Linked DNA regions of Homo sapiens. The protein of the gene in region 1 purifies or fractionates together with the protein of each later gene. This does not show direct contact. Each region holds a gene or a part of one and is shown in the gene's direction. Other genes may lie near its edges.

The links.
Region 2: the proteins of KIF23 (region 1) and YWHAE purify together in Homo sapiens (affinity purification with mass spectrometry; 4 studies listed by BioGRID and IntAct, with this or other methods). This does not show direct contact.
Region 3: the proteins of KIF23 (region 1) and ATP2A2 purify together in Homo sapiens (affinity purification with mass spectrometry; 2 studies listed by BioGRID and IntAct, with this or other methods). This does not show direct contact.
Region 4: the proteins of KIF23 (region 1) and SHCBP1 purify together in Homo sapiens (affinity purification with western blotting; 9 studies listed by BioGRID and IntAct, with this or other methods). This does not show direct contact.

Annotation. Positions count from the first base shown.
Region 1 is NC_000015.10:69,438,317-69,445,358, forward strand, and holds part of KIF23 (kinesin-like protein KIF23), read left to right. Parts: coding exon 1-89; intron 90-1,587; coding exon 1,588-1,761; intron 1,762-1,991; coding exon 1,992-2,171; intron 2,172-2,451; coding exon 2,452-2,763; intron 2,764-6,473; coding exon 6,474-6,725; intron 6,726-7,042.
Region 2 is NC_000017.11:1,343,775-1,348,264, reverse strand, and holds the end of YWHAE (14-3-3 protein epsilon), read left to right. Parts: intron 1-2,765; coding exon 2,766-2,818; 3' UTR 2,819-3,990; downstream 3,991-4,490. UniProt on the Homo sapiens protein: Adapter protein implicated in the regulation of a large spectrum of both general and specialized signaling pathways. Binds to a large number of partners, usually by recognition of a phosphoserine or phosphothreonine motif.
Region 3 is NC_000012.12:110,347,215-110,351,603, forward strand, and holds the end of ATP2A2 (sarcoplasmic/endoplasmic reticulum calcium ATPase 2), read left to right. Parts: 3' UTR 1-178; coding exon of another isoform or gene 179-198; 3' UTR 199-3,077; coding exon of another isoform or gene 3,078-3,091; 3' UTR 3,092-3,879; downstream 3,880-4,389.
Region 4 is NC_000016.10:46,583,374-46,590,415, reverse strand, and holds part of SHCBP1 (SHC SH2 domain-binding protein 1), read left to right. Parts: intron 1-3,610; coding exon of another isoform or gene 3,611-3,658; exon of another isoform or gene 3,659-3,687; intron 3,688-6,326; coding exon 6,327-6,413; exon of another isoform or gene 6,414-6,414; intron 6,415-6,758; coding exon 6,759-6,900; intron 6,901-7,042. UniProt on the Homo sapiens protein: May play a role in signaling pathways governing cellular proliferation, cell growth and differentiation. May be a component of a novel signaling pathway downstream of Shc. Acts as a positive regulator of FGF signaling in neural progenitor cells.

The DNA of each region.
Region 1 (7,042 bases):
GGAAACTAAATGAAAAGGAGAAGATGATCTCAGGACAGAAATTGGAAATAGAACGACTGGAAAAGAAAAACAAAACTTTAGAATATAAGGTTTGTTTTGACATTATTATGATAGATGTATGTGCTGGTGTTTTAGCACTGTTCTCTGAGGGAGATATTGTGCTCCAACGGCCTGTAAATGCTGCTTATTAAGAGTTCTCGGTTGAGTGCGGTGGCTCATGCAGGTAATTCCAACACTTTGGGAGGCTGAGGTGGCCAGATCATCTGAGGTCAGGAGTTCAAGAACGAGCCTGGCCAACATGGCAAAAGCCCATCTCTACTAAAAAAGTACAAAAGTTAGCTGGGCGTGGTGGCGAGTGCCTGTAATCCCAGCTACTCAGGAGGCTGAGGCAGGAGAATCGCTTGAACTGGGGAGGTGGAGGTTGCAGTGAGCCGAGATTGAGCCACTGCACTCCAGCCTGGGCGACAAGAGCAAGACTCTGTCTCAAAAAAAAAAAGAGTTCTCAGGCTGAGTGCGGGGGCTCATGCCTGTAGTCTCAGCACATTGGGAGGCCAAGGCAGGGAGATCACTTGAGCCCAGGAGTTCCAGACCAGACCGGGCAACGTGGCGAAACCCCATATCTACAAAAAAAATTAGCCAGGCATGGTGGTACATGTCTGTAGTCCCAGCTACTCGGAAGGCTGAGATGGGAGAACAGCTTGAGCCTGGGAGGTTGAGGCTGCAGTGAGCTGGGATTGCACGACTGCACTCCAGCCTAGGTGACAGAGCGAGAGCCTGTCTCAAAAAAAAAAAAAAAGTTCTCAATTGGTTGTTTACTAATCCTCATCCCATGCTAAGGAGGAAATGTGAGTGAAATGAAGAATCATATGTTCTTTAATTTTATGAGAGTTTTAACAGTTGAAAAGGATGTTCTCTGACCCAAACAAGGGAGCTTTCTAGAGCTTAGCTTTGGTTGTAGCTTGCTTTTGAATTTATTAGAAATATTTCCTTAGTATGCTTTTTTTTTTTAATGAGATAAATGATTAAATGAAATGGTATAAAAGTGCCAGCATCGGGCCTTGGACGTAACAGATACTCAGTAAAGCTTAATTGGATCTGTATTTGGTTTACAAATCGATTGTAAAAGTATAAACTCAGGATTAATCTCTTACAATGGGGTAGAAGGAAATACCGTTTTGTTGGGAAGCATTGCAGCACTGTGTAATGTATGTCTGTTCTCTCATTTACAGAGGGTCATTTAGAGGTTTGGTGGGGGTACACATTCATAAGAGAAGTTAGTCTCAACCAATATAGTTTTTTTAAATTCTGAAAATAGCCTAAAAACTAAATTTTAGCCCTTAATTTTAGGAGAAAGTAATTTTCACATGAAGTTAGTTGTAAATGTCTTTGGGTGAGGAGCTTGTTTAACATGTTTTCATTTCTGAGAATGGGGGTGGGAATTCAGATGAAATGTTAGAGAAAAAAGTGCTTTCTCCATGATGTTTCTTTCCACAAATATGCTTGCATAAGCAAATTAAGGAAGACTATTTTATAGCGACATGAAATGTTTATATACCAAATATTGAACATAGTGGTCTACCTTCCTAGATTGAGATTTTAGAGAAAACAACTACTATCTATGAGGAAGATAAACGCAATTTGCAACAGGAACTTGAAACTCAGAACCAGAAACTTCAGCGACAGTTTTCTGACAAACGCAGATTAGAAGCCAGGTTGCAAGGCATGGTGACAGAAACGACAATGAAGTGGGAGAAAGAATGTGTGAGTATCGTTTGGGTAGTGCTTGTCTCAGAGTCGGATGATTTATTTTACATTGTAGTTAGGTTCGATATTTTGAATTATTGTATTTGCGGTAGGGTTTTGGTGGTGGTTGTTAACTCTCAGGAAGAATTGGAGAACTGTCATTTTTAGGAAATAAAGAGATTGGGTAATCTGGTGTACTCGTTTGCTGTGATGGAATGATAATATACATTGCCACTGATAATCTGTAGGAGCGTAGAGTGGCAGCCAAACAGCTGGAGATGCAGAATAAACTCTGGGTTAAAGATGAAAAGCTGAAACAACTGAAGGCTATTGTTACCGAACCTAAAACTGAGAAGCCAGAGAGACCCTCTCGGGAGCGAGATCGAGAAAAAGTTACTCAAAGATCTGTTTCTCCATCACCTGTGCCTGTAAGTTATTTGTAATTGTGTAGTAACTTTGTACTAGAGAAATTTTGTTCAGATTAGATGACTATTTCTATGAGGATTTTTACATTTTATAATACTTACATTTCTGAAATTTCTCTAAAAATATTTTAAAATTTAGAATAAACACAAATTTAGCACAAAAAAATAGAACAAATAATTATTTGTAATGTTAAGTCTTCATGTGCTAACATTATAGAAAAGTAATGAATTGTTTCTCTCAGTTTTTCAGTCTTGCTCATTAATTTTTCTCCAATTTTTCTAGCTTTCTAGTAACTATATTGCTCAGATTTCCAACGGCCAGCAACTCATGAGCCAGCCACAGCTACATAGGCGCTCTAACTCTTGCAGCAGCATTTCTGTAGCTTCCTGTATTTCGGAATGGGAGCAGAAAATTCCTACGTACAACACACCTCTCAAAGTCACATCTATTGCAAGGCGTAGGCAGCAGGAGCCAGGACAAAGCAAAACTTGTATCGTGTCAGACAGAAGGCGAGGGATGTACTGGACTGAAGGCAGGGAGGTGGTTCCTACATTCAGAAATGAGATAGAAATAGAAGAGGATCATTGCGGCAGGGTTAGTGCCAGTATTATTTTAACGCATTGTAGCAATAGATTTTATCTTCTTTGTTTTTTGTAACTTGTGTCTGAAAGTTCATTGGAAAAATGGTTGGGCTATAGTATAAAGAAGGTCTAATTTCTCAGTTAATTTGAAAGATTGACTTACGGAAATTGAGGCCTGGCTCCTCATCTGAAAAAGCCTAAACACATCTGGCAGCGGAAGTGTGTTCAGTGAACACAGGTCAGTTTGGTGCATCCCAGAGTAGTCTGAGCTTTTCAGCTGCATACGCTAATAAGCTTTGCACAGAATTGGTGAATGTGTCTTAAAGCATACTTTCCATATTTTTCTTTTGGTTCCCCTTCCCCAAATTAGATTTTTTATACCTCCTTTCATGCCCTAGTTTTAAAAATTGTTTTCCCAAATTTTTATTTTGAAAAATTTCAGACCCAAAGCAAAGTAGAAAGAATAGTATGGTAATGTCTTTCCCTCCTTGCCTAAGTTTACCAATTGTTACTTGATATAGATATGTAAACCTTTTTCCCCTAAGCCTTGTGAAAGGAAATCACAGACTTAGAGACACTTAATCTCTAAGAATAAGGACATTGTACTACCTAGCCACAATCTTTATCACATCCAAGAAAATCAACATTAATTAATTATCCTCTATTGAGACATTGTGCAGTTGTCCCAAAATTGGATTGGCTTTTCTTTTTTTTTTTTTAAAGACAGAGTCTCACTCTGTCACCCAGGATGGAGTGCAGTGGCATGATTATGGCTCACTGCAGCCTCAGTCTTCCTGAGCTGAAGTGATCCTCTCACCTCAGCCTCCCAAGTAGCTGAGATTACGGGCAGGCCACCATGCTAATTTTTTATTTTCAGTAGAGACAAGGTCTCACCATGTTGCCCAGGCTGGTATTGAACTCTTGAACTCCAGCAATCCTCCTGCCTTGGCCTCCAAAGGTGCTGAGATTACAGGCAAGCCACTGCACCAGCCAGCTTTTTTTTCAATCCATGATACTATGAAAGTGTATGCATTGCATATCATGATTATGTCTTTCATCTCTTTTAATATAAAATAGTCTCACCCTGTCCCCCTACTTTTTTTATTTTTATGACATTGACTATTTTCATTGAAGAGTTTAGGCCAGTTATTTTAAAATTACTGATTTCCATGCCCAATAAATTGCTTTTAATCTTGAGGCATTTATCTCAATTTACATTTGCCTCATTCAAGGGTATTTAAATAAATTCACTTTCATATTTTTCTTCTTAAAGATTAAGGTAAAGTTTCTTTTGAATCTGAATAAATGGACCAAGTTAATGTTTGCGAATTTTATATTTAGTAAAATCTTCACAAAGCTCTCTTAGAATATTTCTTCTAAATCTTACAGTAAACATTTACTTTAGATTTTCTTATATAAGTCAGGGTATAGATGAATGTTCATTTATGTGGCCTGAATTCCTGATTATTAAGGGATGGTGATGAATCCCAAGTTATTTACCAGGGAAACAGATGATTCTAAAGTCTCTTAAGTTCTTTACTTTGCAGATTTTTCCTTAAACATTTTTAGACAGCAAATTAGGTAAATGGTCATTCTGACCAACTCTAGTCAGTCATTTTATGAAAGTTTATAGGCTGAAAACTATTCAAGGCTTGCGTATGCCTTGCAAACCGTAATGAGATATCTAATTTGGCTATGAGATATTTAAGGGAATTTACTAGAGATTCTTACGTGAAATCAAAATCTCTTTAGAAGTGCAGCAGAAAAGTTACTGTAAGGTTAGTATCTGTGCATCTAAGTTTGTTGGTCAAAAATTATGTCAGGTGGACTGAATTTATACTTCAGTGAGGAAAAAATTTAAATATTTGTTTCATAAATGCTAGTAGATTGTATGGATTATCATCTTTCTGAAGTGTGTTTCATCATATGCTTATTGTTAAATGTTTGAAGAAAACCTTTGTTTTTGCTAAATGGTAGATGATAAGGACCAGACTTTCTTTCGTGTTCAACATTAAATAAATCATTGTAGGAATGGAAAGTTCCTGTTTGTCTTGAGGCTCAGCATCTTTAGTGGCAAACTGTATTGCCCATGTCTTAGAGCTGTCACTAGTGCTGCATTTGTTTCTTGTTAACTATATAGCGAAAATGATTCAGTTCCTCAGATGTGCATTTTGAAATTGAGGTCTTCATACTTGACTAGCTTTGACAGATTTGGCCTGTGATAGACTTTTTCCATTTGCTTTCAGTTTTGTTTTTTGGGTTTTTTTTTTTTTTTTTTTTTTTTTTTTTTGAGATGAGGTCTTGATCTGTTGCCCAGGCTGGAGTGCAGTGGTGTCATCTAGGCTCACTGCAGCCTTGACCTTCCAGGCTCAAGTGATCGTTCTACCTCAGCCTCCTGAGTAGCTGGGACCACAGGCATGTGCTATCGCACCTGGCTAATTTTTAAATTTTTTGTAAAGATGGGGTCTTCTTACATTGCCTAAGCTGGTCTCGGGTGATCCTTCTCCCACCTCAGCCTCACAAATGTTGGGATAACAGGTATGAGCCACTGCACCCAGCCCTGCTTTCAGTTTTACAAACAGGAGATGTTCATAAAATTCTAAAGATAATTCATTGCTTCAAACTATAACTATGGCATATATGTGACATATTATTTTCTTAGGCTGAATGTGCTTAATTTAGCATTCCCAGGTTTACATGACATTTGACTGGAAGCAACTTGTTTGTTTTTGAGGCAGGGTCTCATTCTATTGCCCAGGCTGGAGTGCAGTGGTGCGATCTTGGCTCACTGCAATTTCCACCTCCTGGGCTCAAGCAATCCTCCCACCTCAACCTCCTGAGTAGCTGGGACTACAGGCACGTGTCACCAAGCCCAGCTAATATATATATATATATTTTTGTTTGTTTTGTTTTGTTTTGTTTTTGTTGAGTCTGGGTTTCACCATGTTGCCTAGGCTGAACTTGAACTTCTGAGTTCAAGTGATTCCTCCACCTCGGCCTTCCAAAGTGCTGATTACAGGCATGTACCACCATGCCTGGCCTAGCAACTAGTCTTTTATTGTGTGATAGAGACTGATTTGACACTGTATTATTTATTTGTTTCTTGGAACCTGTATGAAATGTTTGGGGGAAAAATTAGTTGGTATATTGTAGCCATTACTGTATTTGAACTTTTCATGAAGTTCTATTATGAGATTTTAAAATCTTAACTGAAAGCACTCAGAAGTATTTCACATTTCTTTAATCATTTTATTCATATGGTTCTTATTATACCTATGTTCTTAGGATTGTTTTCTGTTTTGTTTAGAAGCCTAGAAAATGTGTAGGGCTTTCATTGATCTTATTGAAGATTTTAACAGAGTTGTGGACATAATAGATTACCTCTCAATAGCAGGGATAAATATTGGTTTTTGATCAAGAATATGAAATGAGTTGTTTGTCCTGAACCACCCCCAAGCAGGAAAGACTTGCAGCATTACCAGAATTTTTTCTTTTATCCTTTATTGAAAGGGAAACTCCCAGATAGAATGTGTAACATACAAGTTGGTGTTAAAGATGTTTGTTGGTTTTGTGTTTAAATGCAAAGATCATGTTTAAATTACTTGAATAAAATATTTAGCTTTGGAAAGGTTTGCTATGATACTGTCATCAACTAATGTAGCCAAACCTGCTGCACTTCTAATAATACCCTTAAATTAATTCTGGGTTATGCTTGTTTCTCAGTTACTCTTTCAACCTGATCAGAACGCACCACCAATTCGTCTCCGACACAGACGATCACGCTCTGCAGGAGACAGATGGGTAGATCATAAGCCCGCCTCTAACATGCAAACTGAAACAGTCATGCAGCCACATGTCCCTCATGCCATCACAGTATCTGTTGCAAATGAAAAGGCACTAGCTAAGTGTGAGAAGTACATGCTGACCCACCAGGAACTAGCCTCCGATGGGGAGATTGAAACTAAACTAATTAAGGTAAAAAACTAATTTTCACAGGAGAAAAAAATATATTTAAAAATTCAACAAAAGTCCATTTGTCCTGCTACTCCTTTGGTGACACACAGGTAGTGTCAACTGGAACATCAGTAGGTATTTGATATAACCTTTTTGTTAGCAGAAAATTAGTCACTGCTTAGGTTTTAAGTCTGCCAAACTGGGACTAAGTATGCTTTAAATAGGTATAGATTCTTCGGTTTCTTAGAATTCTAGATCCATGATGTACTTTAATTTTTTAATGACTGTATATTTAGTTTTAACCACTACTTAAAGTAATCTAAGCAAAGAATTCCTAT
Region 2 (4,490 bases), on another chromosome or scaffold:
CACTGGGCAAAGAAACATAGCCAAGGAATCCTTTTTCCCCTAATATCTGTATGTCTTTCAAGAGGATATTACTTCCTTCTCAGAGTAGAAGGGAGGAGGAGTAGACAGATTGTTGCTTAGAGTGAAGTTTACACGAAGTAAGACCAAAGTCCGGCTCCTGTATCATTGTTTTCCTTTGTCCTGCTCTGTTGGTTTATTTTTCTTGTAATGTTGCTTTCATATGATTGTTCTCCCTCCCTTTTTCCTTGCAATATAGATTCCTAAAGGAAAACCCAACTCTTCCTTTCCTAAAAACTCTACTTTGTAAGTCACGTTCATGGCACAGTGAATTCCGCTTTCAGTTTTGGTTCTTCACTAATCATGCCTGCGTATGATCGTCCTGTTGCTTACAGACTCTGCCTGTTCCACCTTCCAGGGCGCTGACCTAAGCCTTTTCCGGCCTGCTCCTCCTGCCTACTGTGGTTGGATGTGATGTATATGACAGTGACATTTTTATGCCAAAGTTACTTGGAACTTCTGGCACATCTCATGGTTGCTTACAAGCGAGTTGTGTTCTAGTGTTTGTGTTAATGATACTTTGGCAGTGATTTGCTGTTAGAGTGAATGTTCCTATCATGTTTCCTACGTTTGAATACGTTATTGTCCTTTGGAGAACAGTTGGGTGCCCATCAGTTCTTTCATCCCTAAGCAATTTTTTTTTGCCTTTGCATATTTTTTTTCTGTCTTATGAATTAAAGATCTTCATGTATTTTAAGTAGTTTTAAAATTTTATACATTTTTTTGAGACGGAGTTTTGCTCTTGTTGCCCCGCCTGGAGTGCAGTGGCGTTCAAAGCTCACTGCAGAAATAGAACTCCCCCACCTCAGCCCCCCAAGTAGCTGGGACTATAGACATGTGGCCCCATGCCCAGCGTATGTAGTTTTTTTTTTTTTTGAGACGGAGTCTCGATTGTCGCCCAGGCTGGAGTGCAGCGGCAGAATCTTGGCTCACTGAAAGCTCCGCCTCCTGGGTTCACGCCATTCTCCTGCCTCCCGAGTAGCTGGGACTACAGGCGCCTGCCACCATGCCTGGCTAATTTTTTTTTTTTTTTTTTGTATTTTTAGTAGAGACAGGGTTTCACTGTGTTAGCCAGGATGGTCTCGATCTCCTGACCTCATGATCCACCTCTCTTGGCCTCCCAAAGTGCTGGTATTACAGGCGTGAGCCACCATGCCTGGCTCCAGCATACATAGTTTTTTACTTTTAGTTTTATTTATTCTTTTTTTTTTTTTTTTGAGACGGAGTCTCACTCTGTTACCCAGGCTGGAGTGTAGTGGCATGTTCTTGGCTCGCTGCAACCTCCGTCTCCTGGGTTCAAGCAATTCTCATGCCTCAGCTTCCCAGGTAGCTGGGATTACAGGCATGTGCCACCACGCCAGGCTAATTTTTTGTATTATTTTTTCAGTAGAGATGGGGATTTACTGTGTTAGCCAGGATGGTCTTGATCTTCTGACCTCGTGATCCGCCCGCCTTTGCTTCCCAAAGTGCTGGGATTACAGGCGTGAGCCACCGTGCCCGGCGTTATGTTCATTTTTTGTAGAGACAGGGCTTCACTGTGTTGCTGAGGCTGTAAGTGGGTTTTGAAGTCACACAGCAATGTCAAGCGTTTCCGCCGCAGAAGAGATTTGAAAACTACTGAAACCTTGATGCTGTGACATTTGTCATTTTGAGATCATTTAGGCTGTTTCAAAGCTGTACTCAGTGTAAATGCTTCATGTGTGTAGGCAGCTAGTTTGGTGTTATTTGTCCATCCTAATTAAATAATTTAACAAGCATTATGAATGGATAGTCATTTGAACATTTATGATTCTTGGGTTGATTTTTCATTTATTTTGTTTCAAACTAGTTAACTGTGTAGTAATTGTAAGTGGTTTTTTTAAAAAAGTACAAGTGAATGTAACTTTTACCTGTTACATCATTTTTAAGGGAAAAGCCTGCATGCTTCTTTATTTTGGCTGACTTGTTTAATGCATACTAATAGGTAGATGACCCTCCAACCAATAGGTGGCTTTCTGTTGCATGTCATAGTGCAGTTGAAACTCCTTAGGGTAATCACCCTCTTTAAAGGCAAAAGACAAATAGCATGAGTGAAGTGGTCCAAATGCCATTCTTTAATAACCTCAGTGGTCTGATTTACTTTGAGCATGCTGTGTTTCACTCTGAAGTAAAATCTGATTATAGTTTGGTGTATCTGGCCAAGATACAAAAGCTGAAATATTTATAACAGCAGAACCCCACAATAAAATACGATAGAACTTCTTGGCAACAGTTTATTGCTCAGTTAACTATTTTGAAGCATTTCTGATAATTAGCTTGTGGGTAAATTAGATTTTGCAAAAAGTTTGCAAAATACTCTTGATTCTTGAAGAGGTGAGGTTATTGAGAAAGAGTATTTTGACCCAAGATTTATGTGAAAGCTTGAATGTCATTTTAGTAAGATGGTTTCCTTGGCTGTCTACGTCAAGAGCTTATTTAGCGTAAAAACATTGAGTTGTACTGCGCATCAGTTTTTTTCATTCTGTTGACCAATAAATACTTTCAGGACCATAATCCCTTCTTGGCTTAGGCATCTCAGGTGTCAAGGATGATAGAAGTCCTTTGCCTGCGTTTAATACCAATTGTAGCAAGTAGAAGAGTCTTTATGCTTGGAATGACACCTTTGTTTGTGGCTGCCATAGCCTAATGTAGTCAATACGAAATAATTGACTTTTTTTCTTTTTTAACAGGTGAAGAGCAGAATAAAGAAGCGCTGCAGGACGTGGAAGACGAAAATCAGTGAGACATAAGCCAACAAGAGAAACCATCTCTGACCACCCCCTCCTCCCCATCCCACCCTTTGGAAACTCCCCATTGTCACTGAGAACCACCAAATCTGACTTTTACATTTGGTCTCAGAATTTAGGTTCCTGCCCTGTTGGTTTTTTTTTTTTTTTTTTAAACAGTTTTCAAAAGTTCTTAAAGGCAAGAGTGAATTTCTGTGGATTTTACTGGTCCCAGCTTTTAGGTTCTTTAAGACACTAACAGGACTACATAGAGGCTTTTTCAGCATTACTGTGTCGTCTCCGTGCCAGATGTGGCAAGATCACCATTAGCAAATGGAAATTACATTTGAAAGCCATTAGACTTATAGGTGATGCAAGCATCTAAGAGAGAGGTTAATCACACTATAGAGGCATAAGTGGTATCAGTTTTCATTTTTCTAATTGTTTAAACTGTGTTTTATACCAGTGTTTGCAAGTAATTGGGTGTTAGCTTGAGATGGTTAAAGGTGGTTTGGGGAGGGACTTCGTTGTAATGGTTTTGCTGTAAAAAATGTTTCCAACTCCGCTGAAATGTTGCTGAAAAGCATGGTGCTGGTAACAGTTCAACAATCCGTGGCTGCTCATTCTTGCCTACTTTACTCTCCCACTGAAGCAGGTTAGCGTTGAAGGTGGTATGGAAAAGCCTGCATGCCTGTTCAATTCTTTTGTTTCTTCTCCTTCCCCCTCCCCCTACCTCCTTCCCCTCACTCCTCCCCTCCTTCGCTCGCTCAACCTCTTTTGTTCAGTATGTGTAACTTGAAGCTAATTTGTACTACTGGATATCTGACTGGAGCCACAGATACAGAATCTGTATTGTTCTTACTGAAACACAGCATGGAATTAACATTAAACTTAAATAAAACAAACCTAAATTAAAAATGCCAAATATCGCGCCTCCATCCTTTATACTTCTAAAATAAAATCTCTAGTCCAAACACACTGACAGTATTATGTTTGCCTGAATGTGAAACATTCCTCCTTTTTTCTTCCATAAATAATTTGTTTGCTTCCCAAAGATGTATGTTTTGGAAAAAAATTGCCTGTAGTCTGGTTGTGAAGAACACTGAGTCAGTTGATGGTGTGTCTTGTCCTCCAGACCAGGCAGCAACATGGTATTTATTTTAATCATTAAAGTACAACATGAGTAGTACAAGGTGTAATTATGGATCATTTTCTAGCATAGTATTTCATACAACCAAATAAGGCTGAATGTCTTATAATAATTCTTAGAGGTAAAAACTGTGTGCCCTCTTCCTCCAGAGGCTAGTGGCAGTAGTGGAGAATTACTCAATCCTTTCTTAGTAATCCATACACACATTATAGACAGCAGGATAGCAGTCTCCCTTTCCAGAAACACTGTATAAGAAGCTTCTTTCCATAAACAGTTTATACATCAATGTGTATAGATACCTAGTTACTGTAGATCTTTTTATGTTAGGCATTCAGATGTGTCTCATTCTGACTGCGTAACATTGATGTACACCTGATTTTGTTAAGACCAGTTTGCTCCTTTTGGGCAGGTGCTGCAGGAAATACCCTTGGAACAGTTTTTGCTTAAATATTTGTATGTATCTGGAAGGTACATTTCTAGATTCCCTGTGTCAGTAAACATTTTTCAGTTGATAAATCCTTCCTCGTCACACTTGTCTT
Region 3 (4,389 bases), on another chromosome or scaffold:
TGTCTAATGTATTTTATTGTAACAGACATTGTTTTGCCAACATTGCCTATTTCAGTGGCACGTCATCTAGTTTTAAAAAAATAAAACATTTTAAATGGACAGAGAAAAATAACTGTCTTGTCTTTAACTCGTAAGTGGCTTACCTGGGACTAACAGACATGTCCAACTTTCTCTCCAGTTCTTAGCTCAGAACTTTAGTTGTACTCTGCTTGAGGGGAAGAAGGCTCCTGCTCTGCTGTGTAGGTAGTCATAGGAATTGTATTCTTAATGTACAGGCACTAATTGTCATCTGTGATGTACATTTTATGCAAGTTTCTGCTGGCCTGGTATAGAGAACATAAGGGCAAGTGTGTATGTGTGTGTATGTGTGTGTTTTGTAAAATCTGTAAATAGCACATGACCAAATGAACATATTGTATAGAACTATTTTTATTTGAATGTGGCACTAACCACCACCACCGTTACTACGATCAATGTTTGCGCATGTTCGAGATGAGTCTCACCAACAGTGTGTAAGTCATTAACAGTCCTAACTGTGGTGTTTTCCTCCAATGCCTTCCAACATCCATCAACTAACGTGAGTATTTTCTTCCTGGGATTTGGATGCTTTAGCCTAAAGGTGACTGCCACCAAGTGAGATAACTGTATGTCACTAACTTATAAGCCGCCTCCATGGCAGATGCTGCTGTGCTCCCTGATGCCCTGTGAGCACCGGGGTTGCCTGTGGCGCCTGCCATGTGACTCGGGCGCAGCATCAGCTGGCTGGAGGTGTGGCTTTCATAGACCTCCACAGGCTGCCTAGGACAAGATGACCAGGAGGGCCCAAGCCAGACAAAAGCCGGAGTGGGGAGAGAGGCATTTCAGCCAGACCAACAGGCTGAAGGAGCTGTGCAGACTATTGCTAAAATGAGGGTTCGCAGCTGCCAGGAGTCATCCCAGAACATTGCTACTTATTTATTAAAAAGCTAAAAACTAGTGAAAGCAAGTAACTGAACCAGTGAACTCTGGGTATCGATAGGTTCGTCTTAAATAGGCCACTTCCCCACTCCCCCACCCCCCCTTGCTTGGTCTTGTCCTTGGTGGCTAAGACTTAGCTCTGCAGGGGATGTTAAAGCACAGTTAGTAGGACGTGGCTCTGCACAGCCCAAAAACCAGCTTACTCCTTAGCCAGGGTGTGAGGCCTCGACTATATTCTTCAAAATGTACTTAGGCTCTGGTTACTGGGATGGCCAGTAGATGTAATGCAGATGGTTGGAGTTTGGGGAGGGTTAGGAGGCATCAAGCAGGACAAGGTGCTGCTGAGTTCAGAGGGCCCACGTTCAAGGGATGGAGGTGGAACCTGGAGACCGACTCTTAAAAGCACAGTCCGTGGTTGGGTGTGGTGGCTCATGCCTGTAAGTAAGTCTCAGCCCTTTGGAGGCCACAGCAGAAGGATTGCTTGAGCCCAGGTACTCAAACCAGCCTGGGCAACAGAGTGAGGCCCTGTCAAAAAAAAATCAGCCTTACTGTGAAGCCTCCAAGGCTGCTCGCAGGCAGCTGTGGCTCTCGGGAAGGGAGGCTGCTTTGCCCAGCAGGGAACATTTGGGGCAGGGGGTAAATTTTGCCAGTTTGAGCATCATGAGGTGTAACAAGAAATGGGTTGAATGGGCCAAATGCAAGGAGTGCATCTCTGGGCTGCAAACTGACTTGAGTGCTGCACTATTGCTATTCCGTGCAAACAAAACTCAGCTTTTCCTGACTCAGTTCCTTGACTTAGTGGCCTTTACAAAAAAAGTTGAGTAGTGTGTGGCCTGCTGTCGCACAGCCCCTAGTTAGCTTCATGGTTTCTCAGCTTCAGACCCCTCCAGCCCACAGAGGAGCCCATGGAGGGACCCACTTCCCTTGGTCCAGACAGCTGGGAGTGGGTTAGGCCCACTGCTGTTTTGAGCAGGGCCACTTGCTCCATTTCACTGAAGGCTTTGCTGGGTGAAAACACTTCAGCATCTCCTCCTCAGGTCAACCCATAAAGACCAGGTCCAGCACCGTGGTCTTGGCACATCCCTGGCCTCAGGCCCTCACCTAACAGTGAGGCAGCAGCTGCCCAGCCCCGCAATGTGCCTGCTGTCAGGCAGCTCTTGCCTGAAACTTACTTCCACATTCTTTCCTGATGGGCAGGTGGCTGAAGGCCCAGCCATCAGTGTCGCTTGTTGCCACCCCGTGCCTCCCTTGGCCTCTCTGAGCTTTGCCCAGAAGACCAACAATCATACATACCCTAACTGGGACACCACTCTGCAGAATGCAGATGATCCATTCTGGAGGAAGCTGTCCCTTGAGCTCAGTGAGCTCCCAGGCAAGCAGGGCATCTGGCCGACTTCCCTCACAACAGCTGCTCCCACATCCCCTCGGACTGGAGCTTCAGCCCTGACTGAGGTGGGCAGACCTAAGACCTGAGACCACAAGATTAGCTCAGTGTCTACCAAGCATCTAGCCACTGTCCAGGGCCAGAGCATACCACGTCTGCAGTGCCTGTGAGCAGAGCCAGCAGTTGCCCTGTGACTGTAACCACCAAATTGTCCAAACACCCGCTGCAGTTAGCAAGAAGGGTAGGCTTCACCCTCCTTTACTGAGGAGAATGATGCGGAGGAGTTTCCTCTCCAGGGCTAGGCAAGGCAGGCGAGCAGCCAGAAGCCGGGTGCCCACAGGGCAGGGACAGGAAGGCTGTGCTGCTACTGGCTGCTCACTTCTCCATCAACCTCACCCTCTGCACCACTAACCAAGACCTTGTCCTCTTGCCTGTCTCGCTGCTTTCACAGCTGCAACGATTGTGTCTGCCTCATGGGGTTTTCCTCCAGAGCCTTTATTCTGTAGCCAGACGACACGAGGAGTCTGTGTCACTGAGCCAGTGCTTCTAGATGCTACCCTGTGTGGGCGGCACCTCAGGGACAGTAAATCAGAAATGCTGGTCTTGAAACCTTGAAAAGATCAAGCTGAATGTTCCTTTTCATCTGTCGCTGTTGATCTTCATCTATTTAAATAGGTATTCTAACGTTTCCTCTCTGTATTTCATGAAGCTGATTTCCTCTCTCTTTCCTTTTCAGCAATACTGGAGTAACCGCTTCCTAAACCATTTTGCAGAAATGTAAGGGTGTTCGGTTGCGTGCATGTGCGTTTTTAGCAACACATCTACCAACCCTGTGCATGACTGATGTTGGGGAAAAAGAAAAGTAAAAAACTTCCCAACTCACTTTGTGTTATGTGGAGGAAATGTGTATTACCAATGGGGTTGTTAGCTTTTAAATCAAAATACTGATTACAGATGTACAATTTAGCTTAATCAGAAAGCCTCTCCAGAGAAGTTTGGTTTCTTTGCTGCAAGAGGAATGAGGCTCTGTAACCTTATCTAAGAACTTGGAAGCCGTCAGCCAAGTCGCCACATTTCTCTGCAAAATGTCATAGCTTATATAAATGTACAGTATTCAATTGTAATGCATGCCTTCGGTTGTAAGTAGCCAGATCCCTCTCCAGTGACATTGGAACATGCTACTTTTTAATTGGCCCTGTACAGTTTGCTTATTTATAAATTCATTAAAAACACTACAGGTGTTGAATGGTTAAAATGTAGGCCTCCAGTTCATTTTCAGTTATTTTCTGAGTGTGCAGACAGCTATTTCGCACTGTATTAAATGTAACTTATTTAATGAAATCAGAAGCAGTAGACAGATGTTGGTGCAATACAAATATTGTGATGCATTTATCTTAATAAAATGCTAAATGTCAATTTATCACTGCGCATGTTTGACTTTAGACTGTAAATAGAGATCAGTTTGTTTCTTTCTGTGCTGGTAACAATGAGCGTCGCACAGACATGGTTTCAGGTAAATAAATCTATTCTATGATAAATTCTCAGTGTGGTGGTGACTGTTCTGTGGGAGGGGGACTGATGGGCACCAAGGGCCTCCACTCCGCACCCGGGCCTGCCCCTCTACAGGGAAGCAGGGGAGGCTCAGTCTGGGCAGGGTGGCCATGTGACTAGAGGGGACAGGAACCTCTTGGACTCGACTTCACAGTAGACAGGCTGACTGGCAGCAGGTCCGCCCATGTGAAGCCCACCCTGGCTCCCTACCCTTTAAGGATGGGGGAAGCTGAGTGTGTGTTACCAGTGGGGTCTTAAACACACAAGGCCTCACTCGTCAGTGTGGTGAAGAAAGCCAAGACTCCGCGCTCTCCATTGTTAGCAGCCTGGAAAGATCTGGAGACTAGCAATGGAGAGATGTTTCTTAGGCTGTTCAGATCCAAAACTTCCACATTCCCCGTTGTTGATAGGTATGGGATGGAGAGGTGAACAGAACTGAAGCAGCTGTTGGAATTCATTTGCTGGTTACTTTAGTGCTTATTTGGCAGTGATGGGTT
Region 4 (7,042 bases), on another chromosome or scaffold:
GGGTAGATTGTAAAAATTTTCTTGCATTCTGTAGGTTGCCTGTTCACTCTGATGGTAGTTTGTTCTGCTGTGCAGAAGCTCTTTAGTTTAACTAGATCCCATTTGTCAATTTTGGCTTTTGTTGCCATTGCTTTTGGTGTTTTAGTCATGAAGTCCTGCCATGCGTATGTCCTGAATGGTATTGCCTAGATTTTCTTCTAGGGTTTTAATGGTTTTAGGTCTAACATTTAAGTCTTTAATCCATCTTGAATTAATTTTTGTAAGGTGTAAGGAAGGGATCCAGTTTCAGCTTTCTACATATGACTAGCCAGTTTTCCCAGCACCATTTATTAAATAGGGAATCCTTTCCCCATTTCTTGTTTTTGTCAGGTTTGTCAAAGATCAGATGGTTGTAGATGTGTGGTATTATTTCTGAGGGCTCTGTTCTGTTCCATTGGTCTATATCTCTGTTTTGGTACCAGTACCATGCTGTTTTGGTTACTGTAGTCTTGTAGTATAGTTTGAAGTCAGGTAGCGTGATGCCTCCAGCTTTGTTCTTTTGGCTTAGGATTGTCTTGGCGATGTGGGCTCTTTTTTGGTTCCATATGAACTTTAAAGTAGTTTTTCCAATTCTGTGAAGAAAGTCCTTGGTAGCTTGATGGGGATGGCATTGAATCTATAAATTACCTTGGGCAGTATGGCCATTTTCATGATATTGATTCTTCCTATCCATGAGCATGGAATGTTCTTCCATTTGTGTCCTCTTTTATTTCATTGAGCAGTGGTTTGTAGTTCTCCTTGAAGAGGTCCTTCACATCCCTTATAAGTTGGATTCCTAAGTATTTTATTCTCTTTGAAGCAATTTTGAATGGGAGTTCACTTATGATTTGACTCTCTGTTTATCTGTTATTGGTGTATAGGAATGCTTGTGATTTTTGCACATTGATTTTGTATCCTGAGACTTTGCTGAAGTTGCTTATCAGCTTAAGGAGATATTGGGCTGAGACGATGGGGTTTTCTAGATATGCAATCATGTCATCTGCAAACAGGGACAATTTGACTTCCTCTTTTCCTAATTCAATACCCTTTATTTCTTTCTCCTGCCTGATTGCCCTGGCCAGAACTTCCAACACTATGTTGAATAGGAGTGGTGAGAGAGGGCATCCCTGTCTTGTGTGACAGTTTTCAAAGGGAATGCTTCCAGTTTTTGCCCATTGATTATGATATTGGCTGTGGGTTTGTCATAAACAGCTCTTATTATTTTGAGATACATCCCATCAATACCTAGTTTATTGAGAGTTTTTAGCATGAGACGCTGTTGAATTTTGTTGAAGGCCTTTTCTGCATCTATTGAGATAATCATGTGGTTTTTGTCTTTGGTTCTGTTTATATGATGGATTACGTTTATTGATTTGCATATGTTGAACCAGCCTTGCATCCCAGGGATGAAGCCAACTTGATCATGGTGGATAAGCTTTTTGATGTGCTGCTGGATTCGGTTTGCCAGTATTTTATTGAGGATTTTTGCATCGATGTTCATCAGGCATATTGGTCTAAATTCTCTTTTTTTGTTGTGTCTCTGCCAGGCTTTGGTATCAGGATGATGCTGGCCTCATAAAATGAGTTAGGGAGGATTCCCTCTTTTTCTATTGATTGGAATAGTTTCAGAAGGAATGGTACCAGCTCCTCTTTGTACCTCTGGTAGAATTCGGCTGTGAATCCGTCTGGTCCTAGACTTTTTTTGATTGGTAGGCTATTAAATATTGCCTCAATTTCCGAACCTGTTACTGGTCTATTCAGAGATTCAACTTCTTCCTGGTTTAGTCTTGGGAGGGTGTATGTGTTGAGGAATTTATCCATTTCTTCTAGATTTTCTAGTTTATTTGCATAGAGGTGTTTATAGTGTTCTCTGATGGTAGTTTGTATTTCTGTGGGATTGGTGGTGATATCCCCTTTATTAGTTTTTATTGCATCTATTTGATTCTTCTCTCTTTTTTCTTCTTTATTAGTCTTGCTAGTGGTCTGTCAATTTTGTTAATCTTTTCAGAAAACCAACTCCTGGATTCATTGATTTTTTGAAGGGTTTTTTGTGTCTCTATTTCCTTCAGTTCTTCTCTGATCTTAGTGATTTCTTGCCTTCTGCTAGCTTTGGAATGTGCTTTCTCTTGCTTCTCTAGTTCTTTTAATTGTGATGTTAGGGTGTCAATTTTAGATCTTTCCTGCTTTCTCTTGTGGGCATTTAGTGCTATAAATTTCCTTCTACACACTGCTTTAAATGTGTCCCAGAGATTCTGGTATGTTGTGTCTTTGTTCTCGTTGGTTTCAAAGAACATCTTTGTTTGTGCCTTCATTTCGTTATGTACCCAGTTGTCATTCAGGAGCAGGTTGTTCAGTGTCCATGTAGTGGAGCAGTTTTGTTTTGAGTGAGTTTCTTAATCCTCAGTTCTAGTTTGATTGCACTGTGGTCTGAGAGACAGTTTGTTATAATTTCTGTTCTTTTATATTTGCTGAGGAGTGCTTTACTTCCAACTATGTGGTCAATTTTGGAATAAGTGTGATGTGGTGCTGTGAAGAATGTATATTTTGTTGATTTGGGGTGGAGAGTTCTGTAGATGTCTATTAGGTCCGCTTGGTGCAGAGCTGAGTTCAATTCCTGGGTATCCTTGTTAACTTTCTGTCTTGTTGATCTGTCTAATGTTGACAGTGGGGTGTTAAAGTCTCCCATTATTATTGTGTGGGAGTCTAAGTCTCTTTGTAGGTCTCTAAGGGCATGCTTTATGAATCCGGTGCTCCTGTATTGGGTGCATATATATTTAGGATAGTTATATGCACCCATATATATTTAGGATAGTTAGCTCTTGTTGAATAGTCTTTTTCTATTGTTTTAATTTCAACTTGCCTATATTCTGTTTGAAGTGAGTTGTAGACAGCATATAGTTGAGTCATGTTTTTAATCCACTTTGGCAATCTTTGTCTTTTAATTGTATTTAGACCACTTACATTTAATTATTGATATTAAATCTTTAGTTTATTTCGTGTTTTCTGTTTGTTATGCTTTTCATTTCTTGATTTGCTTTTTTTCTGCCATCCTGTGGATAGCTGAACATTTTTCAGAATTTCATTTGTTTTTGAGAATATCTCTTCATATAACTTTTTTAGTGGTCGCCCTAGGTTGTATATTATATGTACATAACAGTTTACTGGTGTCACCAGTTCAAGTAAAGTATAGAAACCTTGCCTCCTTTTATTATTCTCTACCATCTCCTTTTTATAATTGTCTTAAACATTTGCCTTATGTACGTACATCTAGAACCATATTAGAGAATTTTATGATTTTTGTTTCAAATGTCAAACATAATTTAGAACACTCAAGAGAAGGAAAGCTTATTGTATTTACCTATATCTTTGCTTACTGTGTTCTTTTTTTTTCTTTTTGATGTTCCAGGATCTTCTCTTTTATCATTTCTTTTTTGTTTAGATAACTTCCTTTAGTCATTCTATGAAGATACGTCTGCTGGTGACAAATTTTCCTATTTTTCCTTCTTCTTAGAATATCTTGATTTCCTCCTCATTCCTGAAGAATATTTTCACTGGTTATAGGATTCTGGGTTGACAATTTTTTTTCTTTTAGCCCTTGAACAATACTGTGTGTCTTTCATCTGACGTCCATGGTTTCTGATGCTGTCAATCACATTTTCTCTCCTATAGGTAAGGCATAAAATTTTAATTGATGCTTTCAAGATTTTTGTTTTAAGCTTACACTAGTTTAATTATGATGTATGTTGGCGTGGATTTCTTTGAGTTTATCCTGTTTGGTGTCTGCTCAGCTTCTTGAACCTGTAGGCTTATTATCCAAATCCTGCCAAATTTGGGAGCTTTTAGTCACTATTTCTTGAAGTATGTTTTTAGCCTCACCCTCTTTCTTTCCAGGACTCTGATGACATGAATATTGGATCTTTTGTTATATTCCAGCAGACCCCTGGAGCTCTGTTTACTTTTCTTTTTCACTGTTTTCTCTGCTATTGGGTAAATTTTACTGTTCTGTCTTCCAGTTCACTGATTCTTTCCTCTGTTGTTTTCATTCTGCTGTTGAGCACATCCATTGAGCTTTCTATTTCAGTTATTGTATTTTTCAATTCTAAAATTTCCATTTGGTTCTTTATATCATCTACTTCTTTGCTGAGACTTCATTTTTCATTGGTTTTATGTGTGTTCATAATTGCTTATTGAAGCATTTTTATCATGGCTGCTTTAAAATCACTGTCAGTTAATTCTATCATCTCTGACATCTTGGTTTTGGCATCTGTTAATTGTCTTATTCATTTTGACATTTTCCTGATTCTTGGTATGACAAGGGATTTTCAAATGAAAGTTGGATATTTTTATATTATGTTGTGAGAATCTGGATCTTCTGTTTTAACTTGGCTTCTCTGATACTACTACAAGAAGGGACAGGGTTGGCGGTAGATGGGTATCATCTTGTTACTGGTGGAGGTAGAAGTCATGGTTCCCACTTGGCGTTCATTGATACCCAAGTTGGGTGGGGGAGCTCCTTCTTACTGCTATGTAGGGGTGGGAGGTCTAGCTTCCTACATGGTCTCCACTGGCACTGTGATATATGGGAGTGGTCTTGTTACCAGTGGGCAATGGTGAAAGTCTGGAATCTCCACTAGGCCTGCTCTGACACTGCCCCAGTAGGGAGGGAGTGGTTGTCTTGGCACTGCCAGGTGGGGGTACAAGTCCAGGCTCCTCATATAGTTTTCACTGACACTGCTGCAGGGAGGGCCTTGCAACTGTGGTTGGTGGGGATGAAAGTCCTGGCTCTGTGGTGTTTACCTGGAATAGAGCTATTATTATCTAAAAGTTTTCCTCTTTCTAGGTTGCCTAGTCCTTTCGTTAGAGCAGCTTTTTTTTGGGTGTATGTCTGTTGGTGTACTGGATTGCTGGCTTCTTCAGCTCCAAGTCTAGGGATTATGAAGCAAAAAGAAAGGAACTTACCACTGTGTTGGTGTTGTTTCTTGGGTCCTGAGGTCCCTAGCTGGTCTGCCTTCTTCTCTCCATTTTTCAGTCTTATGCTTGTTTTATATATAATGCCCATGGTTTTTGGTCGTACCTAGCAGGAGGAATAGGGACATCTACTCCATCATCCCAGAAGTGGCAGGCTCCTCAGTTACTTTTTAATTGCCAAATTATCTGTTCCTTTTCATAACATATTTTGAATATGACTTTCACTTGCTACATGACTGCTGGTTTAAATTGTTCTCCTTTACAAATTTTATGTGATTCCTGACAGTTTGATATTTAATTTTAACCATCTTGCTATAGATATTTTTAAACATAGTCGCCCCAAAATCTTTTTTTGCACATAACCCCAAACTGAAAATCTCTTAGAAGACACAATTAGCACATTTTTAAAATCCTCTCTACAAAAGAGTTAGATTGGTGTATACATATGGTTCAGGCATATGTACAGGGTTAAGTAATAATAAATGTTTTCTCATGGAATACTACTGCTACTAGAAAATTAACTGAACATACATGCATTAGATGTGTCATCAATGGTTACAGCAACTCTTCTTCATCGATGCTGTTGTGCATTAAATTATTCCCAAATGGTTGCTGAAATAACTATAGAGGTTTGAGTGAATCATTTTTGTTTTCCAGAGTGCCTTGCATAGCATTAGGAAAGAAATTCTTACTATTTTTATGTTTTTTGGTGCCATAAGGTATGAGAGAATAGTGTCATGTTTGATCTTTCTGGTTACTCTGTTTGAATGACACTTGAACTGGCTGCTGATGTTAACGTGTGTGGTAGGGAAAGCCATTGTTGGACTCATAGAAATGATTTTTAAGTTGGGTTGGGGTATTTTAAAACTGACACGTTTTGGAAAATGTGGGGTCTTGTTTCTATCCTCAAATTACAATATTTTACTAAATTCAAATACTTATCTCCAACTAATTGAGTATCTGAGAGAATGGTCATTTTGAATAAGTGTGTCTTTCAACAAAATTGTTAAATGACTTTTTTTTTTTCTTGGCAGAATCAGAAAACATTTATCTAGAATGAAAGAGAGTAGAGCAAGAATCAAGTGTTGGCACTCTTAGCGTGTGTGTGTGTGTGTGTGTGTGTGTGTGTGGTTTTGAAAATGATAAATTGTCAACAACTTGCTAGAAATGGAACAAATGGAAATGTTGATTAAAAATGGCTGGTAAAACTTATCTGTAAAGTACTTTATCTTTGTGCTGTACATTTGTACTGTGTTAAAGGCTAAGAAGTAATTGTAATAAACTCTTATAGTCTTGCCTTTTAAAAACTGATTGTCATTATCTCAAACTGTGACTCACAGGGTGCTGGTATAGAAATCTACCCTGGGAGTCAGTGCACCCTGAGTGACAATGGGATCCATCACTGCAAGGAAGGGATCCTCATTAAGGTGAGCATCAGCCAAAACACCCACTTTTCAATGGATAGAATGGTTTTACCTACAAATTATGCTTTATTAAATTGTTGGGTTCTATTTTCTGGTTTTGAAAAGCATAAACAGTGTACACATTTTGATAATATCAGTGATTGGAATCTCTTGTGAGAATGCTGTTACCTATAGATCTGCAGAAATGACAGAGGAAAGCTGTGTCACTAAGGGTGCAGACTGTGCTACAACATGGGACTAAACATAGCTTTTTCCTTTTATTTTTAGAATAGTGTGAATAAAGAAGATTTTTAAGGCAGGAAATGTTGAATATGACAGTTCCTAAAACATTTGTTTTCAATGTCACAGGACTTCTTAGATGAACATTATGACATTCCCAAGATATCCATGGTGAATAATATAATACATAATAATGAAGGTTATGGTGTTGTCTTGGTGAAACCTACAATCTTCTCTGACCTGCAAGAAAATGCTGAAGATGGAACTGAAGGTATATTTAGTAATTTTTAATATAAAAACCAGACATAATTTATTTCAGCATTAAATGCTGATTAAGGATCTGAGTCTTCCTCTCTTCCTTAAAAAAGGTTGTTGGGATATGCTTGGGCATGGAGAGAGAGAAGCTTGGTAAC